Linked DNA regions of Homo sapiens. The protein of the gene in region 1 purifies or fractionates together with the protein of each later gene. This does not show direct contact. Each region holds a gene or a part of one and is shown in the gene's direction. Other genes may lie near its edges. The genes, in order: KLF15, PRRC2C, RRP12, FAR1, MAP7D1, AKAP8 and HACD3.

Evidence for each region.
Region 2: the proteins of KLF15 (region 1) and PRRC2C purify together in Homo sapiens (affinity purification with mass spectrometry; one large-scale study listed by BioGRID and IntAct). This does not show direct contact.
Region 3: the proteins of KLF15 (region 1) and RRP12 purify together in Homo sapiens (affinity purification with mass spectrometry; one large-scale study listed by BioGRID and IntAct). This does not show direct contact.
Region 4: the proteins of KLF15 (region 1) and FAR1 purify together in Homo sapiens (affinity purification with mass spectrometry; one large-scale study listed by BioGRID and IntAct). This does not show direct contact.
Region 5: the proteins of KLF15 (region 1) and MAP7D1 purify together in Homo sapiens (affinity purification with mass spectrometry; one large-scale study listed by BioGRID and IntAct). This does not show direct contact.
Region 6: the proteins of KLF15 (region 1) and AKAP8 purify together in Homo sapiens (affinity purification with mass spectrometry; one large-scale study listed by BioGRID and IntAct). This does not show direct contact.
Region 7: the proteins of KLF15 (region 1) and HACD3 purify together in Homo sapiens (affinity purification with mass spectrometry; one large-scale study listed by BioGRID and IntAct). This does not show direct contact.

The regions. Positions count from the first base shown.
Region 1 is NC_000003.12:126,347,409-126,350,908, reverse strand, and holds part of KLF15 (Krueppel-like factor 15), read left to right. Parts: intron 1-3,500. UniProt on the Homo sapiens protein: Transcriptional regulator that binds to the GA element of the CLCNKA promoter. Binds to the KCNIP2 promoter and regulates KCNIP2 circadian expression in the heart. Is a repressor of CCN2 expression, involved in the control of cardiac fibrosis.
Region 2 is NC_000001.11:171,537,530-171,541,029, forward strand, and holds part of PRRC2C (protein PRRC2C), read left to right. Parts: intron 1-2,441; coding exon 2,442-3,500. UniProt on the Homo sapiens protein: Required for efficient formation of stress granules.
Region 3 is NC_000010.11:97,363,341-97,366,840, reverse strand, and holds part of RRP12 (RRP12-like protein), read left to right. Parts: coding exon 1-99; intron 100-219; coding exon 220-395; intron 396-607; coding exon 608-733; intron 734-2,937; coding exon 2,938-2,987; intron 2,988-3,500.
Region 4 is NC_000011.10:13,727,668-13,730,256, forward strand, and holds part of FAR1 (fatty acyl-CoA reductase 1), read left to right. Parts: coding exon 1-16; intron 17-944; coding exon 945-1,107; 3' UTR 1,108-2,589. UniProt on the Homo sapiens protein: Catalyzes the reduction of saturated and unsaturated C16 or C18 fatty acyl-CoA to fatty alcohols. It plays an essential role in the production of ether lipids/plasmalogens which synthesis requires fatty alcohols.
Region 5 is NC_000001.11:36,176,660-36,180,159, forward strand, and holds part of MAP7D1 (MAP7 domain-containing protein 1), read left to right. Parts: intron 1-37; coding exon 38-183; intron 184-1,213; coding exon 1,214-1,542; intron 1,543-1,759; coding exon 1,760-1,937; intron 1,938-2,025; coding exon 2,026-2,164; intron 2,165-2,261; coding exon 2,262-2,366; intron 2,367-2,602; coding exon 2,603-2,656; intron 2,657-2,852; coding exon of another isoform or gene 2,853-2,855; coding exon 2,856-2,898; intron 2,899-3,006; coding exon 3,007-3,097; intron 3,098-3,214; coding exon 3,215-3,408; intron 3,409-3,500. UniProt on the Homo sapiens protein: Microtubule-stabilizing protein involved in the control of cell motility and neurite outgrowth. Facilitate microtubule stabilization through the maintenance of acetylated stable microtubules.
Region 6 is NC_000019.10:15,362,788-15,366,287, reverse strand, and holds part of AKAP8 (A-kinase anchor protein 8), read left to right. Parts: intron 1-3,500. UniProt on the Homo sapiens protein: Anchoring protein that mediates the subcellular compartmentation of cAMP-dependent protein kinase (PKA type II).
Region 7 is NC_000015.10:65,536,963-65,540,462, forward strand, and holds part of HACD3 (very-long-chain (3R)-3-hydroxyacyl-CoA dehydratase 3), read left to right. Parts: intron 1-3,500. UniProt on the Homo sapiens protein: Catalyzes the third of the four reactions of the long-chain fatty acids elongation cycle. This endoplasmic reticulum-bound enzymatic process, allows the addition of two carbons to the chain of long- and very long-chain fatty acids/VLCFAs per cycle.

The DNA.
Region 1 (3,500 bases):
GGCACATTCCAAATCTTTGCTGCTGTGGCTGCTGCTACGTGTGTGAGACGGGGCACACTCATCTGTATCCCTGGGGGTGTATACAGGCCTGGGCCTCGCCAGCAGGTGTGTGGCTGTGTGTGTGCACACCCACATGTGTATGCATCTTGCTTTCTTTGTGTCTGTCTGTGCCGTGTGACCATATGTGTTTGCACACATACATGTCTTAGGTGTTTGTGCACCATGTGTGGCTGCCTGTGTGTGCATGTGTTATGTGTGGGTGCAACACCCGGGGAGCAGTTTGCAGCTTTTGTTTTCTTGACCATACTCTGGTTCTGAGAGCTCTTGAGAGTTGTCTGGGGCAGAGGTTCTGGCCAGTGAGGCTGAGCTGTGGTCAGGGAGCTGTGAGTGGAATGTATGTTGTGGCACTGGTGCCACCTTTCCATTGAGTGCCAATCTGGCCAGAGAAGGGAATTTTCCTGAACAGTGTCTAGGTTTATGGAGGCCCCTCCTGAGTGAGGACATCACTCTGTCCTGTCTCCCACCCCATTCAGACAGACCGGAGAGGCTTCTGTGAGAGCCCACCCTGGGGCCTCACAAGGTCTCCATCCTGGAGTCCCCACCTCTCTGAGCTTTGTACCTAGGCCTGCCGAGTGGGTGCATGGCTGACAGGTTGCTTGTGAGAGGAGGACACAGCAGCAAGTACACTGCATAGGAGGTTAGAGGAGCCGAGAGAAGGGCCAGGAGTGCTCTTGATTGAAGCAGGAAACTTGTGCAGAGAAGGCGAGGGCACAGGTATGTGGGGGCTGTGGTCTTGAGCCTACGCCTGGGTCAGCCACTAACTTGTCATGTGCCTTTGGGGTGGTCCCCCTCCAAACCTCAGTTTCCTGTCTGCAGAGTGGAGGGCTAGCCCTTTGCAGCCCAGGGCAGGCGTGCAGGGCTCCACAGCGGCCTCCTTGTTGTTTGTACATCATAAGGATACAAACTCATACACGGCAGTTTCTGAGGAGGAACCCTGAAGGCATTCTCTCCAGCCCCCAAGAGGGTGGTGCCTATTGTGAAGGGACCCCCTACTCCCAGGGACCCTGTATGCACTCTCCTCTTGGTGAGGGCGGGCAGGGGCTGCAGAGAGGCAGGGAAACCTCCCTCCAAGCACCAGTCTGGACTCCTTAGTCGGGCTCAGGTTTCAGCGCCGTCTCCTGGCCATAGTCGACCGTTGGCAAGTAGCTCCTCTAGATGCCGTGAGGCTGGGTAGGGTGATGGGGAGGGCAGGTGTGGTCCTCATCCAAGGCCAGCCTTCTTCCTGGATATCTTAGGGCCAGAGAGCTGATAGGCCCCTCAGCCCAAAGTGTATCTCAGTGAGGCAGATCTTAGTTCTCTATACAGTGGCCTCAGGAGGTAATGAGTTCCTCATGGCAGGGGGTGTACATGAGAGAGTGGGGACCTGTGGAGGGGATTCAGCTCTGACACATCTGAGCCCTGGCACTGGTCGTGCTGCCCAGGACCCACTTGGCAAGAGAAGGTGTAGTGGTTGCCTGGCCCAGTGAGATCACAGTGGCACTGCCCCCAGGAGCTGTCCCTGCTGCCAGCCATGCCCCGGGCTTCCTGAGGGCTCCTCCAGCTTCCCCCAAGGTCCCCTGGAGTGGGTCTGGCCCTGGTGGGGTAACTCATGGCAGAGGCGCTGTTCGGCTGGGAGCTGAGGACACCGGCCTCTAGGGAGGGCTGCTTTTCTGAGGATGCGGGGAGTCCTCAGCTGGCTTTCAGGGATCTTGAAACCCTGGGGATGTGCCCAGTCTGCTTGTGTCTCTTAATGTGGTGATAGTCTTCAACTGAGAGGGAGCCCCTGCAGCTCCTTACAGCAGTCAGGAGGGAGGATGGACCCCGCTTTGGGGCAGCTGGGTCTGGACAGGACTGGAAGGGTAACGATGATGATGGTGAGATGGCGTATTTACTGACCACTCACTGTATGCTGGGCACTATTCTAAGTTTCTCAGAGCTGGAATCCCCTCCGCCCACTATTGTAACTTGCATACTTCCTGCCATGGGGAGCTCATTACCTTCTGAGGCCTTTAAGTGTACTTTGCTGTGCTTCAGTTTCTATTCAAGCTTCTCGTTCTGGCCCATAGACCCACACAATGTGCTTACCTGTCTCTTCCCCTTACTGAGTGGGATCCAGCCACGCTGGCCTCCCTGCTGTGGCTCAGGCTCCCGCGTGGGCATCCGCCCTCTCTGTGCCCTCTGTCTCAAATGACCCCTGCCCTTGAGGCTGTAGTGACAGCTTAAGGTTTTCGCATTAGCTCATCAGGTCCTTGTAACTGCCTGGTAAAGTGTAGGCACCAATCTTCATTTTACAGAGAGGGAAACTGAGGCACAGACTGCTCACGTCACATGCCCACAGGGACATAGCTAGTGAGCAAGGATCTGGGTTGCATGACTAAGCCCTAGCAGAGCCCTGCTCTGGCCACCTGGTGGTCCTAGCTGGTATCAGAGTCGCCATGTGTGCCTCCAGTCTCCCACCAAGAGGTCGGCCCAAAAGGCATTATGCTTCTGGGCTATGGGAAAAGAGCTAACGACCACAATCGAGATAATAACCAGGGCCTCTAATGCATACTTGGCACTGCTCTGAGCAAAATTCACACATATTAATTTACGTAATTCTCAAAATTAGTAGGCATCAGCATGTTGTCCCTATTTCACAGAGGAGAGAATTAAAGCACAGAAGAGTTAGGTAAATTCTCCAGTCAGCCAGCCAGTAAGCCCCAGAGCCAGGAGTTCAGCTGAGGCTGTCTGCCCAGAATCAGGGACCTCCCTCTGCACCCCGGTGTTGGGTGCTAACTCTGGTGTTGGGAACCTCCACCTCCATCTGCAGCTCAGCCTGGTCTTTGGGGTGGCAGCTCTACACACTCACCTACTCCCCGTGGGGGAGCTCTCCACTCCCAGGCCGCGTCTCTTCTTCCTGGTGGCCTAGATGAATGGGATGCTCTTTCTGCCCAGGCTGGCTCTGGCCTAGTACCATGTCCTGTGCTCGGAGAACAAGCCAGGGCCCCTCAGGCCCCTCATACCTCTGTGTAATGGACAGTGCCCTCCCTCCACTGCTGAGGTCGTCACCTGCCCAGGTACTCAGCCTCCACTTCCTTCTGCTTTTGGTCCTAAGAGTACTCCCTGTCCCTTCTCTGGTGACATGATTTTGGCACCCTCAACAGGGCTGAGAGCAGGCTTTCCCTGTTCTGATCCAGCCGTCTGGGAAGTGCTGCTTGCCTGCCTTCCTAGAAGTTTCCTTGCCTCACTGTCAGACATAGGCATCCTTTGTTCCTTGCAGCAGAACGTCCTGTTCCAGAATGGCCAAGCCATTCCATCCAGAAAGAATCCCTTCTGCTGCAGTGAATATGAATATGAATAACTGTCATCAGCCTGTAGGGTGGGTACTTTTGTCGTCCACAGTGGATGTGGTGGGGGACAGAGAAGGGGAGTTCCAGGCTCCTCTTGAGCGTCAGAGCCAAGAGGTGGTAGGTGCAGGATTC
Region 2 (3,500 bases), on another chromosome or scaffold:
TGTGTAGTGTTTCTGAAGATCATTCCAATTTAGGACTGAAGCATAAATCTGGTTTCCTTCTATTTAATTTAGCATGCTACGCTTACTCTTTGGACATATTCTCTGTATTCATTAGGGCATTTTGTAACCTGGTTCTGTACTCAATTGTATGCTGTAATTTAGTATTAGATGTTGAAATTGGTAGGTTCTTTTTTGAGATAGGAACTTGCTCTGTTATTCAGGCTGGAGTGCGTTGGTATGATCTTGGCTCACTGCAGCGTTCACCTCCCAGGCTCAAGTGATCGGCTTACCTCAGCTTCCTGAGTGGCTGAGACTACATGCGTTCACCACCACACCCCGCTAATCTTTGTGGGGTTTTTTGTTTTGTTTTTGTTTTTGTTTTTGTTTTTGAGACAGAGTCTTGCTCTGTCTCCCAGGCTGGAGTGCAGTGGCGCGATCTCAGCTCACTGCAAGCTCTGCCTCCCGGGTTCACACCATTCTTCTGCCTCAGCCTCCTGAGTAGCTGGGACTACAGGCACCCGCCACCACGCCCAGCTAAATTTTTGTATTTTTAGTAGAGACGGGGTTTCACCGTGTTAGCCAGGATGGTCTCGATCTCCTGACCTTGTGATAATCTTTGTATTTTTTATAGAGATGGGGTTTTGCCGTGTTGCCCAGGCTGGTCTTGAACTCTTGGGCTCAAGCAGTCTGACTGCCTTACCTCCCAAAGTGCTGGGATTATAGACGTGAGCCATCGTGTGCAGCCACTTGGGATGTCTTTATTGTAGAGTAGGTGTGAAGAAATTTAGGTGTATCTACAATGCTTATATAATATAGCTAGATGTAATTTTTCCATTAGTGAGATGTTTCTTTTTAACAGTATTTTAGGGAACATTTTTAAGGCCAAGATAAGGAGAAATACAATAATACAAAGTTAACTTTGAAATGGCGCACAATTGGTGATGACTGTAATAATTTATAGCCATACAGTTGGAACTTCCTGCCCTTTTATGGGCTATATTTTTTTGGTAATGTTTTATAATGTTTTATAATTATTTGTAATTAACTGGGACAGATAAGCTTACTCAAGTGTACTCTTTCATTCTAGGTGGAAATTACTGGTCTTGATGGATTAGAAATTCACATCAGCATGGTCTTAACTTTGTTTTTCCTTAAGGAATAAACTTCATTTATTTATTTCTATTTTTTATTTTTATTTTTTGAGAAGGGTCTCGCTCTGTCAGCCAGGCTGGAGTGCAGTGATGCAATCACAGCTCACTGCAGCCTTGACCTCCCAGGCTCAAGTGATCCTCTCACCTCAGCCTCCTGAGTAGTTGGACTACAGGCATGCAGTACCATACCCGGCTAATTTTTGTATTTTTTGTACAGACAGGGTTTTTTCATGTTGCCCTGGCTGGTCTCAAACTCCTGGGGCCCTAGTGATCCTCCTGCCTCCCAGAGTGCAAGGATTACAGGCATGAGCCACCGCTTCAGGCCCATTTTTTTTTTTTTAATGGAGTTTTGCTCTTGTTGCCCAGGCTGGAGTGCAATGGTGCCATCTCAGCTCACCGCAACCTCCGCCTCCCGGGTTCAAGCGATTCTCCTGCCTCAGCCTCCCTAGTAGCTGGGATTACAGGCATGTGCCACCACGCCCAGCTGATTCTGTATTTTTAGTAGAGACGGGGTTTCTCCATGTTGGTCAGGCTGGTCTCGAACTCCCGACCTCAGGTGATCCGCCCTCCTCGGCCTCCCAAAGTGAGGATTGGGATTACAGGCGTGAGCCACCGCACCCGGCCCTATTTATTTTTAATTGTGGCAGAAACCACTTAGAACATTAGATATATCCTCTTAACAAAAATTTAATCATATGGTACCATGTAGTTAACTGTAAGCAGTGTTATACAGCAAATCTCCAGAACTTTTTTTTATCTTGCATGACTGAAACTTTATACCTATTTCCTATTCTTACCTTTACCTATATTTCCTATATTTACCTTTACCTATATTTCCTATATTATACCTATACCTATATTTCCTATTTCCCCCTACTCCTAGCCCCTGGCAGCCACCATTATGGTTTCTGCTTTGATGAAGTTGATTATTTCATGTTCCTCATGTAAGATATTTGTCCTGACTGACTGACTTCACTTAAGCATAATGTCCTCAGGGTTTATCCATGTTGTAGCATATGACACTATTTCCTTCTTTTTTATCCCTGAATAATATTCTATTGTATGTGTATACCACATTTTCTTTATCCATTCAGCTATTGGATATTTAGGCTGTTTCCACCTCTTGGCTATTGTGAGTAATTCTCCTCTAAACTTTTTATATAGCGAGAGAAAGATTCTCATTATGGTTAAGAGTCATTGCTTTCTGTTTTAGAGGGATTATTTTGCTATATACTTACGCATGGGAAAGATTGCTTTGTTGATTATACCTTTGAATTCTTATCATCATAGGTCTGAAGCTGCGTTGGACCAGGAACAGATTACTGCTGCTTATTCTGTAGAACATAATCAATTAGAGGCTCACCCAAAGGCAGACTTTATCAGAGAATCAAGTGAGGCACAAGTACAAAAGTTTTTAAGCAGATCTGTGGAAGATGTTAGACCTCACCATACTGATGCAAATAATCAGTCTGCTTGTTTTGAAGCACCTGATCAAAAGACCTTATCCGCTCCTCAAGAGGAGCGGATTTCAGCTGTAGAAAGTCAGCCTTCCCGGAAAAGAAGTGTTTCCCATGGATCTAACCATACGCAAAAACCAGACGAGCAGAGAAGTGAACCATCTGCAGGCATTCCTAAAGTAACCAGCAGATGCATTGATTCAAAAGAACCAATAGAAAGGCCAGAGGAGAAACCAAAAAAGGAAGGCTTTATACGATCTTCTGAAGGACCAAAACCTGAAAAAGTATATAAATCTAAATCAGAAACTCGTTGGGGCCCACGACCAAGCTCTAACAGAAGGGAAGAAGTTAATGATAGACCTGTGAGAAGATCAGGTCCCATTAAAAAACCTGTACTTAGAGATATGAAAGAGGAACGGGAACAGAGGAAGGAGAAAGAAGGAGAAAAGGCCGAAAAGGTCACTGAAAAAGTAGTTGTAAAGCCTGAAAAGACGGAAAAGAAGGATCTTCCTCCTCCCCCACCACCACCTCAGCCACCAGCACCAATTCAGCCACAGTCAGTTCCACCACCAATTCAACCAGAAGCAGAGAAATTTCCTTCAACAGAAACTGCAACTTTGGCTCAAAAACCATCTCAGGATACTGAGAAGCCTCTGGAACCTGTGAGTACTGTTCAGGTAGAGCCTGCAGTTAAGACTGTAAACCAACAGACTATGGCAGCACCAGTAGTCAAAGAAGAAAAACAACCTGAGAAAGTCATCAGCAAAGACCTTGTTATAGAGAGGCCTCGACCAGATTCAAGACCAGCAGTTAAAAAAGAATCAACTTTGCCTCCCAGGACCTATTGGAAAGAAGCTAGAGAGAGAGATTGGTTTCCAGATCAAGGATACAG
Region 3 (3,500 bases), on another chromosome or scaffold:
GGCCCGGGCCAAGAGGCACCGAGCCCTGAGCCAGGCTGCCGTGGAGGAGGAAGAAGAGGAGGAGGAGGAGGAGGAGCCCGCCCAGGGCAAAGGTGACAGGTGAGACCATGTTAGGGCCATGGGACCCGGTGTCCCCCCAACCCAAGGGCCTGCCCAGGCAATACCCGCTGACCCCCGCCTCTCCTGGGAGCACTCTGACTGGGGGCTTTTTGTCCTTAGCATTGAGGAGATTTTAGCTGACTCAGAGGACGAGGAGGACAATGAGGAGGAGGAAAGAAGCCGAGGCAAGGAGCAGCGGAAGCTGGCACGACAGAGGAGCCGGGCATGGCTGAAAGAGGGCGGTGGGGACGAGCCCCTCAACTTCCTGGATCCCAAGGTGGCCCAACGAGTCCTGGGTAAGCACAGGGCTGGCCAGTGCACTCAGAAAACAGACTTGCCATGGTGCCAGGTTCTCAGGTGGTGGGTAGGGGGTGGCATCCATGGCAGGCCCATGGACAGGGCTGAGAGGCGCCCGTTTGGGATCCCTGAGCCGGGCTTGTTGGTCATGATGAGGGTGAGTAGCATGGGACTGGCCTTCCACCTCCTCATGCCAAACTCTACACCCCAGCCACGCAGCCAGGGCCAGGCCGGGGCAGGAAGAAGGACCACGGCTTCAAGGTGAGCGCCGATGGCCGGCTGATCATAAGGGAGGAGGCAGACGGCAACAAGATGGAGGAAGAGGAAGGTGCCAAAGGTGGGCCCAACGCGCTTGTCCATTCATTCACCGTGTTCACTTATTCCTTCGGTGATCACTTGCTGAGGAAGCGTGGCTAAAAACAGACCAGAGAAACTCTTCTCTCGGCAGCTTCCTCAAACTTTTTGAGTTTCTCAAACTTTTTTTGAGAAACATTAAGAAATCTTTTTATGTTGTAACCGAGCCATTTATACAATACATATTTAACTTAAAGGAAACTATCGGAAATGGTACTTCCCCTTACTGTGTGTGATACGCTGTTAGTCTCTTCTGTTTTTCTCCTCCTCCTCCCCCTCCTCTTCCTTTCTCCTTTTCTTCCTTCCTCTTTTTTTTTTTTTTTTAATGCAAACTTGGCTAAGGCCCTGAAGATGATTTAGAGGCAGAAAGAGCCAGAGGCTGAAACCCTCCCAACTTCCCAATCCCAATGTCTCACATTGCCCGGGAGTCCCTCCGGTGTGGCATCTCGGAGCTCTCTTTAGTCTTTCCTGGCCCCTCTCCACATATCCAGCCATTAGCTAAGAAACACTTAGGTCTTCGCCAGGCGTGGTGGCTCACGCCTGTAATCCTAGCACTTTGGGAGGCCAAGGCGCGCAGATCAGGAGGTCAGGAGATCAAGACCATTCTGGCTAACACGGTTAAAACCCATCTCTACTGAAAACACAAAAAATTAGCTGGGCGTGGTCGCGGGCGCCTGTAGTCCCAGCTACTCGGGAGGCTGAGGCAGGAGAATGGCGTGGACCCAGGAGGCAGAGCTTGCAGTGAGCCAAGATTGTGCCACTGCTCTCCAGCCTGGGTGACAGAGCGAAACTCTGTCTCAAAAAAAAAAAAAAAAAAACACCTAGGTCTTCAAGAACACACCTGTCATCCCTTTGTTTGGTTCCCAGTGCTGCGAGCTCTGGGCCCTTGTCTCACTGCACCTCCTAACTGGAGCCTCACTGCTCCACATGCACCCAACTCACCAGCCACACGACTGCAGCCGCTCGGTCAGCCTCTCCTTAGCTCCGTTTCCTTGCTTCAGAGTGGATATCATACAATCCTAATACCCACTTTTCCGGGTTGGAATGAAGATGAATCGGTGTAATGGGGACAGCGTATGTACTTGGTGTACATGTGCCTGTTATATTTCCGTGTCTAGTGTCTTCTCTGCTCCTCTCTCGCCCCTGTATACTTTCCCATCTCCTGTCCCCCTTGGTGCCCAGGCATTCCTGAGGCTGTCAGGACCCCTCCCCTCTCTCTCTGCCTTTCCAAACCCCCCTGCTCTTCAGGATTCAGCTCAAAGCTCCTTTTGTAGCCCTTCCTGGGCACCTCAGCCTTTAGGCCTGATTCCCCCAGAACTCCTGCCAAGCCCAGAGGAAACCCAGTCTTCAGCCCTTGGTCATGTGCTTTCTTTGGAGATAGAGTCTCGCTCTGTCACTCAGGCTGGAGTGCAGTGGCTCGATCTCGACTCACTGCAGTCTCCATGTCCTGAGTTTATGTGATTCTCCTGCCTCAGTCTCCCAAGTATCGGGGACTACAGGCGTGCGCCACCATGCCCAGCTAATTTTTGTATTTTTAGTAGTGATGGGGTTTTGCCATGTTGCAGACTGGTCTTGAACTCCTGACCTCAGGTGATCCTCCCTCCTCGGCCTCCCAGAGTGCTGGGATTACAGGTGTGAGCCACCACACATGGCCGGTCACGTGCTCTCTATCGTCTTTTGGTTGTTGATTGACTTTGCCTGAGTTTCTCTTCCCTCCAATTGGTCAGTTTCATACTTTATATTCCCACATGGAGCCCAGCACATACTGCATGGGGCAGAGATTTCAAACAGGAGAATGAAGCCTTCCTGGCACAGTGGGGGTGTGTATGGGGCTGCAGGAGCGCCTGACTCCCCCGGAAACCTGGGGCTTTCTTCAAATCTCAAACAGATGAAGGGTGGGTGAGTGGGAAAAGAAAAGTTTCAAACGAAGCCATATTCACCTCAAAAGTAGGATCACCGCTTCTTTGAGGGGCCGTTATCCCTAGGGCCTAGGGTGGGAAGGAGAAAGGGGCAGTGCTCAGGGGTCTCATCTCTTCTAGCAGAAGGATGATATTGGTCTGAGGAAGGCAATTTTCTGGGGCCGGAGTTGGTGGCCCCGCAGCCTGGTGAGCCAGGAGGGGGCAGAAGGAAAGGGTAGGTTTTGAGGAGCTCCCACAGCGCTCATGGGCCTCTCTTTTTTGGCTCCAGGCGAAGATGAAGAGATGGCTGACCCAATGGAAGATGTGATCATCAGGAATGTGAGTAGTTCCTGCAGATGGGGGGCTAGGGCTTCAGACCTAAGCCTGGGCTCCACAGCTTCTCACCCCCACCACACGTAGACATTGGAACTGCCCTGTTTCTGGAATGCTCGGTGCATCCTCACAGGTGTGCATAGCAGGCGGTCCAGAAGGTTGTGGGTGCCAGGCAGGACAGGGTGATGGTTGTCTAGTTAAAGGAGAAAGAAGGCAGAGACCCTTGTCTCTCTAGCGAGGGCATGTGCTATGCAGGGGCAAGGGCAGCAGCTTCCCTGTGTGCTCCTGCATGGGGTGGGGGCATCCACCGTAGGGGAGCATGGCTGTGTGCCCAGCACTGTGCTGAGGGCCCCACATAGCCTCACGAAGATAGGGACTCCGTTGTCCCAGTGACCAGAGGAGCGTACAGAGGTAAGTAGCCTGCCCAGGGTCACAGGACTCAGTCTGTGCAAACCAGGAATTTGAACCCTGGTTTTCCAGTCTCCTAAGCCCAGGAATTCAACCTCTTTGCCACCATTA
Region 4 (2,589 bases), on another chromosome or scaffold:
GAAAACATCTGAACAAGTGAGTTTGATGCATGGATTTGATTGCTTCTTGTCTTCCTTATGAAATATTCCACAATTTTTTTGGTAAACTGGTATATTTGCTATATCTGTCATTCAAAGATGCAGATAATTTTTAATGGTAATCTCTTATATTTGTAGTGCTTTTTAATGTGATTTTTATGACACTTTTTAAGACTTTCACATTATTATCCCTCTCATGCCTCATAACTCTGTGCGACTTTGCAGGGCAGCCAGTTCTATAGATGAGGAAATTGAGGCTTAGGAAAGTTATATTTGCCTAAGCCATATTGTATTGAGTGGCAAAGCAAACTAGAATATTGATCTTTGACTCCATATTCGAACCTCTTTTCTCTACATCATTTTTCTTACATTGCCGTCCTATCTTGCACTGCCTGCTGAGGTCAGTATAATTTATGTAACATTATTACATCTCTAAAGGTTTGTATTTCTTTCAAACACCATCAGAAACATCAAAATTTTTTGAAACATGAGCTGAAACATGAGAGTAACATATTGTTACTCTTTGAGAAAAGGGAGGATCCTCCTTTATCAAGTTAATGCCATGTTTTATGCTTGGATAAGGGCTTATCCACTTGGCCTTTGATCTTGTGACTGTCACCTGTAACTGAAAGAGTAAGTTACTTGTCTGACAACTTGTAAGCAACTAAAGATGTCAAAAAAAAAGTTTGCTCTATTTTGTCTGTACTGTGATGTATGTAATGAATGAACCTTTTTAGATTAGATGGGAAGCTCTAGAAATTCAAGGTACATATCTGTTTTACCTACAGTATACTTAATGCCTATCATAAGTTTCAAATTAATATGGATTTGAGCTTTGATTAAAAACTCAGTATTAATTAGCTGCCATCTAACAATATTTTTTTCTAGAAAATACTGTCTAACATATCTCTTGATTTGCTTTCCAGGTTGCGGAATATACGTTATGGTTTTAATACTATCCTTGTGATCCTCATCTGGCGCATTTTTATTGCAAGATCACAAATGGCAAGAAATATCTGGTACTTTGTGGTTAGTCTGTGTTACAAGTTTTTGTCATACTTCCGAGCATCCAGCACTATGAGATACTGAAGACCAAGGATTCAGCATTAGAACATCTATACATATGGTGATCTAAATGTACAAAATGTAAAATGTATAAGTCATCTCACTTTTTGTCAAGACATTAAACCATCTTAGATCGGAGTGTGAAGTAAATTATGGTATATTTTATGTAACATTTTAATGTTTATGCTCATAAAACTTAGTGAACACACTGTGTTATGCCAGCTCAAATCTACAGTAGCCACCAAAACCATGACTTAATATTTTGAGCCCTAGAAGAAAGGGGTGTGCTGAGGACAAGAGTGGGGAAATAGGAACACTGACCAGTATAACTGTGCAATTCTGGAACATATTAATTAAAATAATATGCCTTAACATATAGTGAATTTCTAATTCTAATGTTCAGTGCAATGGAAGACATTTATTTGGACAGTAATACTAGCAAAGTTGGTAGATATTTGATTCTTCATTTTTTGTTTTTTTCATTAGTTGAAGTGGGTTTTAGTTTTGTTTAAAATTATAACCAGCGTATTTTCACATCATTCTGTAAGTTAAATGATATCAAACATGAAAGAGATGTTCTCATTTTTCTTTTTCTGATTAAACGTCTGATGCATATCATTTTTCTATAAGTAATCAGTTGCTTTTAAAATCAGAAGGCTATATTATTCTAATGACCCTATTCGATCTAAATGGGTTTGAGAATCCATATCAGCAACATACGTGTTTTTTGACAGAAAGTGAAAACAAATTCCGTAAAACTGTTAGTATCAAAAAGAATAGGAATACAGTTTTCTTTTCCACATTATGATCAAATAAAAATCTTGTGAGATTGTTTATGTTTTGAAGCAGGAGGATTTCTTGAGATTTGATGGAAGTGGGAGTTGGGAAGGATTCACCATACTTGTGTTCTCCTCCCTTTATAAATTTTATTCATAGGACTTTTAAAAGGCTTGTGCTATCTTTCCAGTGAAAACTGAAAGTGCATTATTATGGAAGAATGTATTTGCAGGTAGTAATAGCATTAAAAAATATACTCGTGTGTAAACACATACTAATTTTGACCTTGAAAGATGAATTCCTTCAAGAAAAATAAAATAATGCTTAAGATAATGTGTACGAAATTAAATAAAGGACTTTATTTACATACTACATAAGGTAGCAAACTGTTGAATGAGTTTGAAGGTATCACTTATTTTTTATGCATGTGATTTTAGCTTTAGAAAGAAATGCGTTATAGAAACAAGTAATAGCAAGAAAATTGATGTATATTTTAATGATACATTAAAATTCCCTTTTAATCATAATAGTTAACTCTACTTACTGTTTTAACATACATTTGATTTAACAAATTGTTCAGCATAACACTTCTAATTAAGTTTATCAAGTTGTACTGTATTAGATAATCAGCAGTGTATCTGGAGTATGTTTAAAGAGAACAGTTCGCAATACAAAAAGTTACATGGAGCTTTACATCTTAACTTTCTTTGTCAATTTAAATGCAATGTA
Region 5 (3,500 bases), on another chromosome or scaffold:
CCTCTACTCTCCTCTTCCGTTCCTCCTTCCCTGCCAGGTGCAGAAAAAGGAGAAGAAGGACAAGGAGCGGGAAAACGAGAAGGAGAAGAGTGCCCTAGCCCGGGAGCGCAGCCTCAAGAAGCGCCAGTCGCTGCCCGCCTCCCCACGTGCCCGCCTCTCTGCCAGCACCGCCTCTGAGCTCAGGTGGGCGCGGGCGGTGCGAGGGACCCTGCCCCTCACCGGGTCATTTATTCATCACCCACAAATATTTGTTGGGCAACCACCTCTAGAATGCAACTTCCCTGAGGGCAGATTCTCTCTGTTTTGTTTGAGACAGGATCTCCCTCTGTCACCCAGGCTGGAGTGCAGTGGCACAATCTCGGCTCACTGCAGCCTTGACCTCCCAGGCTCAGGCTATCCTCCCACCTCAGCCTTCCAAGTGGCTGGGGCTACAGGCGCGCCACCACGCTCGGCTAATTTTTTGTATTTTTGGTAGAGTGGGGGTTTCGCTACGTTGTCCAGGCTGATCTTGAACTCTTGAGCTTAGGTGATCCACCCGCCTTGGCCTCCCAAAGTGCTGGGATTACATGTGTGAGTGTAAGCCACCCCGCCCAGCCTCCATTTTTCTTTTTGTTCGTTTTTGTTTTTGTTTTTTTAAGTGTTTTGGTTACTGAAGTACCCCAACACCTAAAATAGTGCCTGGCACCTGGTAACCACTCAGTGAATACCTACTGAAGGGCCAGGGTAGTGCCTCACGCCCGTAATCCCAGCACTTTGGGAGGCCAAGGGGAGGATTGCTTGAGCCCAGGAGGTCGAGGCTGTAGTGAGCTATGTATGATGATGCCACTGCACTCCAGCCTGGGGGTCAGCCAGATTCTGTCTTAAAAACAACAACAACAACAACAACAAAACCTGCTGAATGAATGGACCTGTCAGGTAGCACTCAGGGTGCTGAGGACACGTTGCTGAGCTAACCCAAGCATGGTTTTTTCTCTTATTAAGCTTACAGGCTATTGGCGGGGGACATACAATAATCAAAGAATCCCACAGAAACATGTCATTACAAACTGGGGTGTATGCTCTAAAAGGGAATGGTGTGTTTCTGTGAGAGCAAGGGGGCGGGGGGCGGCGCTGATGTAGCCTGGGGGAGGGGGCACCTCCCAGAGGAAGGAACAAGTTCTCAGCGTGTGGGTGTGTGTGTCTCCTAACCCTTCCCTTTTCCCTTTTCTCTTAGCCCCAAATCCAAGGCCAGGCCATCCTCTCCCTCCACATCCTGGCACAGGCCTGCCTCCCCCTGCCCCAGCCCAGGGCCAGGCCACACTCTGCCTCCAAAGCCACCGTCCCCCCGAGGCACCACTGCATCCCCCAAGGGGCGGGTTCGGAGGAAGGAGGAGGCAAAGGAGAGCCCCAGCGCCGCAGGGCCCGAGGACAAGAGCCAGAGCAAGCGCAGGGCCAGTAACGAGAAGGAGTCAGCAGCCCCAGCCTCACCGGCACCTTCGCCGGCGCCCTCGCCCACCCCAGCCCCGCCCCAGAAGGAGCAGCCCCCCGCGGAGACCCCTACAGGTAGGAATGAAGAGAGGGGAGGGGTGGGCCGAGCGAGAGAAGCCAGCTTCTCCTGTGTGGGGGTGTGGGCCGCCAGAGATGCCTGAGGACTGGGAGTGGGACATGGAAAGAGGAGACTCCTGCCCTCAGCAGTCCCAGGCCCAGAACACAGGCCGCTGGGAGATGACGGCGGTGTCTGCGTGGGTGTGCTGACGCCTGATCCCGGATCCCCCTCCAGACGCTGCTGTCTTGACCTCACCCCCAGCCCCTGCTCCCCCGGTGACCCCTAGCAAACCAATGGCCGGCACCACAGACCGAGAAGAAGCCACTCGGCTCTTGGCTGAGAAGCGGCGCCAGGCCCGGGAGCAGCGGGAGCGCGAGGAGCAGGAGCGGAGGCTGCAGGCAGAAAGGGACAAGTGAGTGCGCCTCGGGGACTGAGGGGGCCCTCGTGGGCGCTGGAGAAGAAGCAGAGGCCGAGCCTGAGCCGTTTGCTCCGTCCCCCAGGCGAATGCGAGAGGAGCAGCTGGCACGGGAGGCCGAGGCCCGGGCGGAGCGGGAGGCGGAGGCCCGGAGGCGGGAGGAGCAGGAGGCACGAGAGAAGGCGCAGGCCGAGCAGGAGGAGCAGGAGCGGCTGCAGAAGCAGGTGCCCCCGGCGGGCGGGAAGCGGCTGGGCGCGGGCGCCGCGGGCCGGGAGGGAAGGCTGGAGTCAAGTGCCCCACGCTCATGGGGGTCTTTGGCAGAAAGAGGAGGCCGAAGCTCGGTCGCGGGAAGAGGCGGAGCGGCAGCGTCTGGAGCGGGAAAAGCACTTCCAGCAGCAGGAGCAAGAGCGGCAAGAGCGCAGAAAGGTGTGCGGACCTGGGCGGGGATTTGTGGGCGGGGCCTGGGCAGGGCGGGCCAGGTGGGCGGGGCCTGGGCTTAGAGCGGACAGGACGGGAAAGCGCTGGGGCAAATTCCAGTTCCTGTCCTGGAGAGGGCTGCTATGAGCTGGGAGGCCCTAAGACTCCGAGGCCGGGTCTGGCTGGTGGGAGGTTTAGGATTAGGGGCGGGGCTCGAGCCTAACTGATCTGCGGCCTCCAAACAGCGTCTGGAGGAGATCATGAAGAGGACTCGGAAGTCAGAAGTTTCTGAAACCAAGGTCAGAATTCCCCCGAAGGGCAGTGCTGGGCGTGGGGGGCAGGGTGTGAAAAGGAGGCTGCGGAAAGGCATCCATGGCCACGGAGAGCGAGGCTGTCAGGGAGGCCGCTGCGGCCCGGGCAAGGGGAGGGCCGAACTCAGTCCGAAGTGGCTGGGGCCGGCTGTCCCTTGAGCCTGACTGCTCTTCCTCTTCAAAGCAGAAGCAGGACAGCAAGGAGGCCAACGCCAACGGTTCCAGCCCAGGTAAAGCCCCCATTCCTCTCGCCTCCCTTCCCTTTGCCATCCTCCTCCTCCTCCATCCTCACCTCTCTTGCCAGCCCCTGGCTGATGGCCCCTCTTTCCCTGTGACAGAGCCTGTGAAAGCTGTGGAGGCTCGGTCCCCAGGGCTGCAGAAGGAGGCTGTGCAGAAAGAGGAGCCCATCCCACAGGAGCCTCAGTGGAGGTACCAGCTTCCAATCCCAGGGTCCCTGAGCAGGGAGGCAGACTGCAGCTGGAGCTGCGGGGTGGCCTGGGCTTTCCTGGGAGGTGAGGTGCTGAGCCTTGGCCTCTGCATCCACAGTCTCCCAAGCAAGGAGTTGCCAGCGTCCCTGGTGAATGGCCTGCAGCCTCTCCCAGCACACCAGGAGAATGGCTTCTCCACCAACGGACCCTCTGGGGACAAGAGTCTGAGCCGAACACCAGAGACACTCCTGCCCTTTGCAGAGGCAGAAGCCTTCCTCAAGAAAGCTGTGGTGCAGTCCCCGCAGGTCACAGGTAGATCTCCTGATTCCTGGACCCAGCTCCATTCCTCCCAGCAGCCTTCCCTGTACTCCTCAGCCCTGCCTTCTCTTCTGGCTCTGCCAGGC
Region 6 (3,500 bases), on another chromosome or scaffold:
TAGGGGTCTTTCTCTGTTGCTTGGGCTGTTGAACTAGCCTCAAGAGATCTTCCTGCGTTGGCCTCCCAGAGTACTGGGAGAAGGGTATAGAGATGACATTTTTTTTTTACTACTTTTTGCTTTTTTTTTTTTTCTTTTTGCTTTTTTTTCATCTTGTATGTTCTTCCAATGAACAGGTGACTTTTTTTAAAAAAAAAAAAAGAAACCTTCAGAGTGTGCGCTAGTGACTGAGGATCTTTTTCTTTTTTTTTTTTTTTATCCTTTGAGATGGAGTCTTGCTGTGTCACCCATCCTAGAGTGCAGTGGCACGATCTCAGCTCACTGCAACAGTCCACCTCCTGGGCTCAAGTGATCCTCCTACCTCCGCCTCCCAAGTAGCTGGAATTACAGGCGCCCGCCACCACACCCAGCTAATTTTTGTACTTTTAGTAGTGACGGGGTTTCACCATGTTGGCCAGACTGGTCTCAAACTCCTGACCTCAGGTGATCCACGCACCTTGGTCTCCCAAAGTGCTGGGAGTACAGGCATGAACCACCGCGCCTGGCCATGACTGAGGATCTCGAAGGGACTTGGAGGAATTCTCACGGGGAGGCAGAGGTGTAGCAGGGAAGCACACAGCTCATCAGTAGCTTCCTGACAGTGCTGTGTATGAGCCCCGGGAGATTGTCCCCTCCCCGCCTACGTAGGGGCTGTCTGCAGAAGCGGAGGTGTCTTCATGTTGCTTGTCAGAGGTCAGAAGCCAGGCATGTGGAGTTGGCAGAGGTGAAGTCCTGAGTGCCACAGGGCCTGCACCCCTACACCAGAAGGGGCAGGAGCCTCCAGGAGAGAGCCAGGGAGGGAGCACCCCAGTGTGGTGGCCTGGGGGCCTGCAGGCTGCTCTCCCTTGCCATGCAGCGTGGTTGCATTTGGGGAGACTTTGAAAGCCTGTGACAAAGAAGCCTCACTTTTTATCTGTAGAATTTGATGTGACATGTCTTTACGTGTAGTCTCATGGCAGAACTGATACTGGGTTTTGTGTTTTGAATTGTGCGAGGTGTTTTGTCTGCACGTAAAATGAGGTTGCCTTATGTCATCCCAGTTCCTGCAGAGAGGAACTCATCTGAGAAGCTGTGAAGCTAGATGCTGGGCCCCAAGAGCTGCCAGCCAGAGCCTAGGGCGTCCCCAGTTCCAAGCAGTTGCAGCTTTCTGGTGTTTTCTCAGGGGCTTTGGGGCCAGAGGGGCTGCAGTGCCAGCAGATTACTATGCGAGTCATTTTCCTGAGATACCTGCAAGCCTGTGTTCCCATTCTTCAGCTGGGGAAGTTTGGGTAACTGCCATTCTGTTGCCCTTTGGGAAGTCGGAACTCTTGGTTCAGCAGCCACTTTCCCTGGCTGAGTGCGGTGGCATGCACCTCTAATCCCAGCTACTTGGGAGGCTGAGGTGGGAGGATCGCTTGAGCCCAGGAGTTTGAGAACAGCCTGAGCAATACAGTGAAATCTCATCTCGAGAAAAAGAAAAGTCTGGGTGCGGTGGCTCACGCCTGTAATCCCAGCACTTTGGGGAGGCTAAGGCAGGTGGATCACCTGAGGTCAGGAGTTCGAGACCAGCCTAGCCAACATGGTGAAACCCTGTCTCTACTAAAAATACAAAAAAAAAATAGGCTGGGCGCGGTGGCTCACGCCTTTAATCCCAGCACTTTGGGAGGCTGAGGTGGGTCAATCACGAGGTCAGGAGTTCGAGACCAACCTAGCCACCATGGTGAAACCACGTCTCTACTCACAATACAAAAATTAACTGGGAGTGGTGGTGGGCGCCTGTAATCCCAGCTACTCGGGAGGCTGACGCAGGAGAATCACTTGAACCTGGGAGGCGGAGGTTGCAGTGAGCCAAGATCGCACCACTGCACTCCAGCCTGGGCAACAGAGGGAGACTCCGTCTCAAAAAAATAAATAAATAAAATAAAATAAAAATACAAAAATTTAGCCAGGCTTGGTGGCGGGCCCCTGTAATCCCAGCTACTCGGGAGGCTGAGGCAGGAGAATCGCTTGAACCTGGGTGTTAGAGGTTGCGGTTAGCTGAGATCGCACCATTGCACTCCAGCCTCGGCAACAAGAGCAAAACTCCATCTCCAAAAAAAAAAAAAAAAAAAGGAAAGAAAAAAAATTACTGAAAATCCTGTTTCTTTTTTTTTTTTTTTTTGCCCACTGCCAATTTATTTATTTATTTATTTATTTATTTATTTATTTATTTTTATTGATCATTCTTGGGTGTTTCTCGCAGAGGGAGATTTGGCAGTGTTTGTGTCCCTGGGTACTTGAGATTAGGGAGTGGTGACGACTCTTGGCATGCTGCCTTCAAGCATCTGTTTAACAAAGCACATCTTGCACCGCCCTTAATCCATTTAACCCTGAGTGGACACAGCACATGTTTCAGAGAGCACAGGGTTGGGGGTAAGGTCACAGATCAACAGGATCCCAAGGCAGAAGAATTTTTCTTAGTATAGAACAAAATGAAAAGTCTCCCACGTCTACCTCTTTCTACACAGACACAGCAACCATCCGATTTCTCAATCTTTTCCCCACCTTTCCCGCCTTTCTATTCCACAAAACCGCCATTGTCATCATGGCCCGTTCTCAATGAGCTGTTGGGTACACCTCCCAGACAGGGTGGTGGCTGGGCAGAGGGGCTCCTCACTTCCCAGTAGGGGCGGCCGGGCAGAGGCGCCCCTCACCTCCTGGACGGGGCGGCTGGCTGGGCGAGGGGGCTGACCCCCCCACCTCCCTCCCGGACGGTGCGGCTGGCCGGGCGGGGGGCTGACCCCCCCCACCTCCCTCCCGGACGGGGCGGCTGGCCGGGCAGGGGGGCTCCTCACTTCCCAGTAGGGGCGGCCGGGCAGAGGCGCCCCTCACTTCCCGGACGGGGCGGCTGGCCGGGCGGGGGGCTGACCCCCCCCCACCTCCCTCCCGGACGGAGCGGCTGGCCGGGCAGAGGGTCTCCTCACTTCCCAGTAGGGGCGGCTGGGCAGAGGCGCCCCTCACCTCCCAGACGGGGCGGCTGGCCGGGCGGGGGGCTGATCCCCCCACCTCCCTCCCGGACAAGGTGGCTGCCGGGCGGAGACGCTCCTCACTTCCCAGACGGGGTGGCTGCTGGGCGGAGGGGCTCCTTACTTCTCAGACGGGGCGGCTGCCGGGCGGAGGGGCTCCTCACTTCTCAGACGGGGCGGTTGCCAGGCAGAGGGTCTCCTCACTTCTCAGACAGGGCGGCCAGGCAGAGACGCTCCTCACATCCCGGACGGGGCGGCAGGGCAGAGGTGCTCCCCACATCTCAGACAATGGGCGGCTGGGCAGAGACGCTCCTCACTTCCCAGATGTGATGGCGGCCGGGAAGAGGCGCTCCTCACTTCCTAGATGGGATGGCGGCCGGGCAGAGACGCTCCTCACTTTCCAGACTGGGCAGCCAGGCAGAGGGGCTCCTCACATCCCAGACGATGGGCGGCCAGGCGGAGACGCTCCTCACTTCC
Region 7 (3,500 bases), on another chromosome or scaffold:
TCCAGTGAACACCCAAATGATAAGAAAGCAAAATATCCATATTGCTGATATGAAGAAAGTTTGAGTGGTCTGGATAGAATATAAATCAGCCACGACATTCTCTTAAGCCAAAGCCTAATCCAGAACAAGGCCCCAACTCTTTCAATTCTATGAAGGCTGAGAGGTGAGGAAGCTGCAGAAGAGAAATTTGAAGCTAGCAGAAGTTGATTCATGAGGCTTAAGGAAAGGCTCCATAACATAAAAGTGCAAGGTGAAGCTACAAGTGCTGATTGTAGAAGCTGCAGCAAGTTATCCAGAAGATCTAACTAAGATCCTTGATGAAGGTGGCTGCACTGAACAACAGATTTTCAATGTAACAGCCTTCTACTGGAAGAAGATGCCGTGGAGGACTTTTATAGTTAGAGAGAAGTCAATGCCTGGCCTCAAAGCTTCAAAGGACAGTCTGACTCTTTTGTTAGGGGCTAATGCAGCTGGTGGCTTGAAGTTGAAGCCAGTGCCCCTTTACCATTCTGAAAATCCTAGGGCCCTTAAGAATTATGTTAAATCGGCCGGGCATGGTGGCTCATGTCTGTAATCCCGGCACTTTGGGAGGCCGAGGCAGGTGGATCACCTGAGGTCAGGAGTTCAAGATCAGGCTGACCAACATGGCGAAACCCCGTCTCTACTAAAAAATAAAAAAAATTAGCTGGGCATGGTGGCGGGCGCCTTTAATCCCAGCTACTTGGGAGGCTGAGGCAGGAGAATCGCTTGGATCTGGGAGGCAGAGGTTGCAGTGAGCTGAGATCGCACCACTGCACTCCAGCCTGGGCAATAGAGAGAGACTCTGTCTCAAAAAAAAAAAAAAAAAGAATTATGCTAAATCTACTCTGCCTATGCTCTGTAAGTGGAACAACGACTCCTGGATGATAGCACATTTGTTTACAGAATGGTTTACTGAATATTTTAAGCCCACTGTTGAGGCCAACTTCTCAGAAAAAAAAAAAAAAAAAAAAAAAAATATATATATATATATATATATATATATATATATATATATATGTATATTCCTTTCAAAATATTACTGCTCATTGACAGTGCACCTAGTCCCACCCAAGAGTGCTGATGGAAATGTCAAGGAGATTAATGTTGTTTTCATGCCCGCTAACATAACATTCCTTTTGCAGCCCATGGATCAAGGAATAATTTTGACTTTCAGGTCTTATTTAGAAAATACTTTCCGTAAGGTTAAAACTGTCGTAGGTAGTGATTCTGTGATGGATCTGGGCAAAGTCAATTGAAAACTTTCTGGAAAGGATTCACCATTCTAGATACCATTAAGATCATTTGTGATTCATAGGAAGAGGTCAAAATATAAAAATGAACAGGAGTTTCGAAGAAGTGGAATTCAACCCTCATGGATGATTTTGAGGGGTTCAAGACTTCAGTGGAGGTAGTAACTGCAGGTGTGGTAGAAATAGCAAGAGAACTAGACTTAGAAGTGGAGCCTGAAGGTGTGACTGAATGCAGCAATCTCATGATAAAACTTGAAGGGATGAGGAGTTGCTTCTTATGGATGAGCAAAGAAAGTGATTTATTGAGATGGAATCTATTTCTGATGAAGATGCTCTGAACATTGTTGAAATGACAATGAAGGGTTTATACTGTTTCATAAACTTAGTTAATAAAGCAGTGGCAGGGGTTGAGAGTATACTCTGATTTTAAAAGAAATTATTCTCTGGGTAAAACAGTATCAAACAGCATTGCATGCTGCAAAGAAATCTTTAGTGAAGGAAAGACTCAATCAATGAGACAAACTTCATTGTTGTCCTCCTTTAAGAAATTGCCACAGCCACTCCAGCCTTCAGCAGTCACCACCTGGATCAGTCCACAGCCATCAACATTGAGGCAGGACCCGCCACCAGCAAAAAGATTACAACTCCCTGAAAGCTCACATGATCATTAGCATTTTTTAGCAATGAAATATTTTAAAGTTAAGGTATGTACACTGTTTTTTAGAATAATACTGCATACTTAATAGACTATAGTATAATATAAACATAACATTTATATATACTGGGAAACCAGAAACTTTGTGTGACTCACTTTATTGTGATATTAGCTTTATTGTGGTGGTCTGGAACAGAACCTACAATAGCTCCAAGGTATGCCTGTAAATTAAAATGATAGGATACTGTTTCTCACATTAGAGTAGGAAAATTGAAAAAGCCTGACATGACCAAGTGTTTCTGAGAATGTTCAGTGACAGGACTTTTTTTTTTTTTTTTTTTTTTTTTTTGAGATGGAGTCTCACCGTGTCACCCCAGGCTGGATTGCAATGGCTCAATCTTGGCTCACTGCAATCTCCGCCTCCTGGGCTCAAGTGATTCTCCCGCCTCAGCCTCCCGAGTAGCTGGGACTACGGGCGCCCGCCATCATGCCCTGCTAATTTATGTATTTTTAGTAGAGATGGGGTTTCACCATGTTGGCCATGCTGGTCTCGAACTCCTGACCTCAAGTAATCTGCCTGCCTTGGCCTCCCAAAGCGCTAGGATTACAGACGTGAGCCACCGTGCCCAGCCGGACTTTTTTTATACAGTTGGTGGAAGTACTAATTGGTACAATTGATTTGGAGAACAGTTTTACACTATCTTGTCAAGCTGAAGTTGTATGTCTTTATGAGTTGGAAGTTTTGCTTTTTAGAGAAGCTCTTACACATGCAGGTGGAGGTAGAATGTTCATTGCAGCAAAAAATTGAAAACAGCCTCAATTTTTGTCAGCTGGAAGAATGGATAAATTGTGGTATATTTATACAATGGCACACTGTACAACAGCTACAATGAATGAAACAGAACCATCTTTATAGAATTAAAGCTTAGAAATATAATATCAAATAAAAAGCAAGTTGAAGAATGATATAGGCAGTATGAAATTATTTTTGTGACATGTCAAATCATACTGTATATTGTGAATGCCCAACGTGTTTTAATGAATAAATAAATACAGTGGAAACGACCAACTCCAATCCTGGAGTAGTGGTTACCTGCGAAGTTGGGGCATGTTTGAGGGAGAGGGCATTGGGATTGAGAAATTGTATAATGTATCTGTTTCTGTTTTATTTCTTTTTTTAAAAATTGAGGCAAATAAAGCAAAATGCTAATGGATGTTAGATATAGTGGTGTTTGCTATATTTTTCTGTTTGATTTTGCTTGAAATATTTAATAATAGAAATCAATAAGTCTAAGCTGTTTATTACCACAGTACAAAAACTACTTATAAAGCAGTAAGTTAAATAATCTGGTAACTGTTGACCACTCACAATGGTCCAGGCACAGTGCTAAGTACTAGATATTCAGTAATGAGCAACACATATAAAGGCACTACCTTCAGATTGAGGGAGACAGACAATAGATATGTTAATAAATAATTACCTAGATAAAGTGCTATGAGGGAAATAAAGAGGGTGATGAAATAGAGAATAATTGGTAGAGGCTATTTTAAATAGAGTGGTCAGGGAAGGCTTC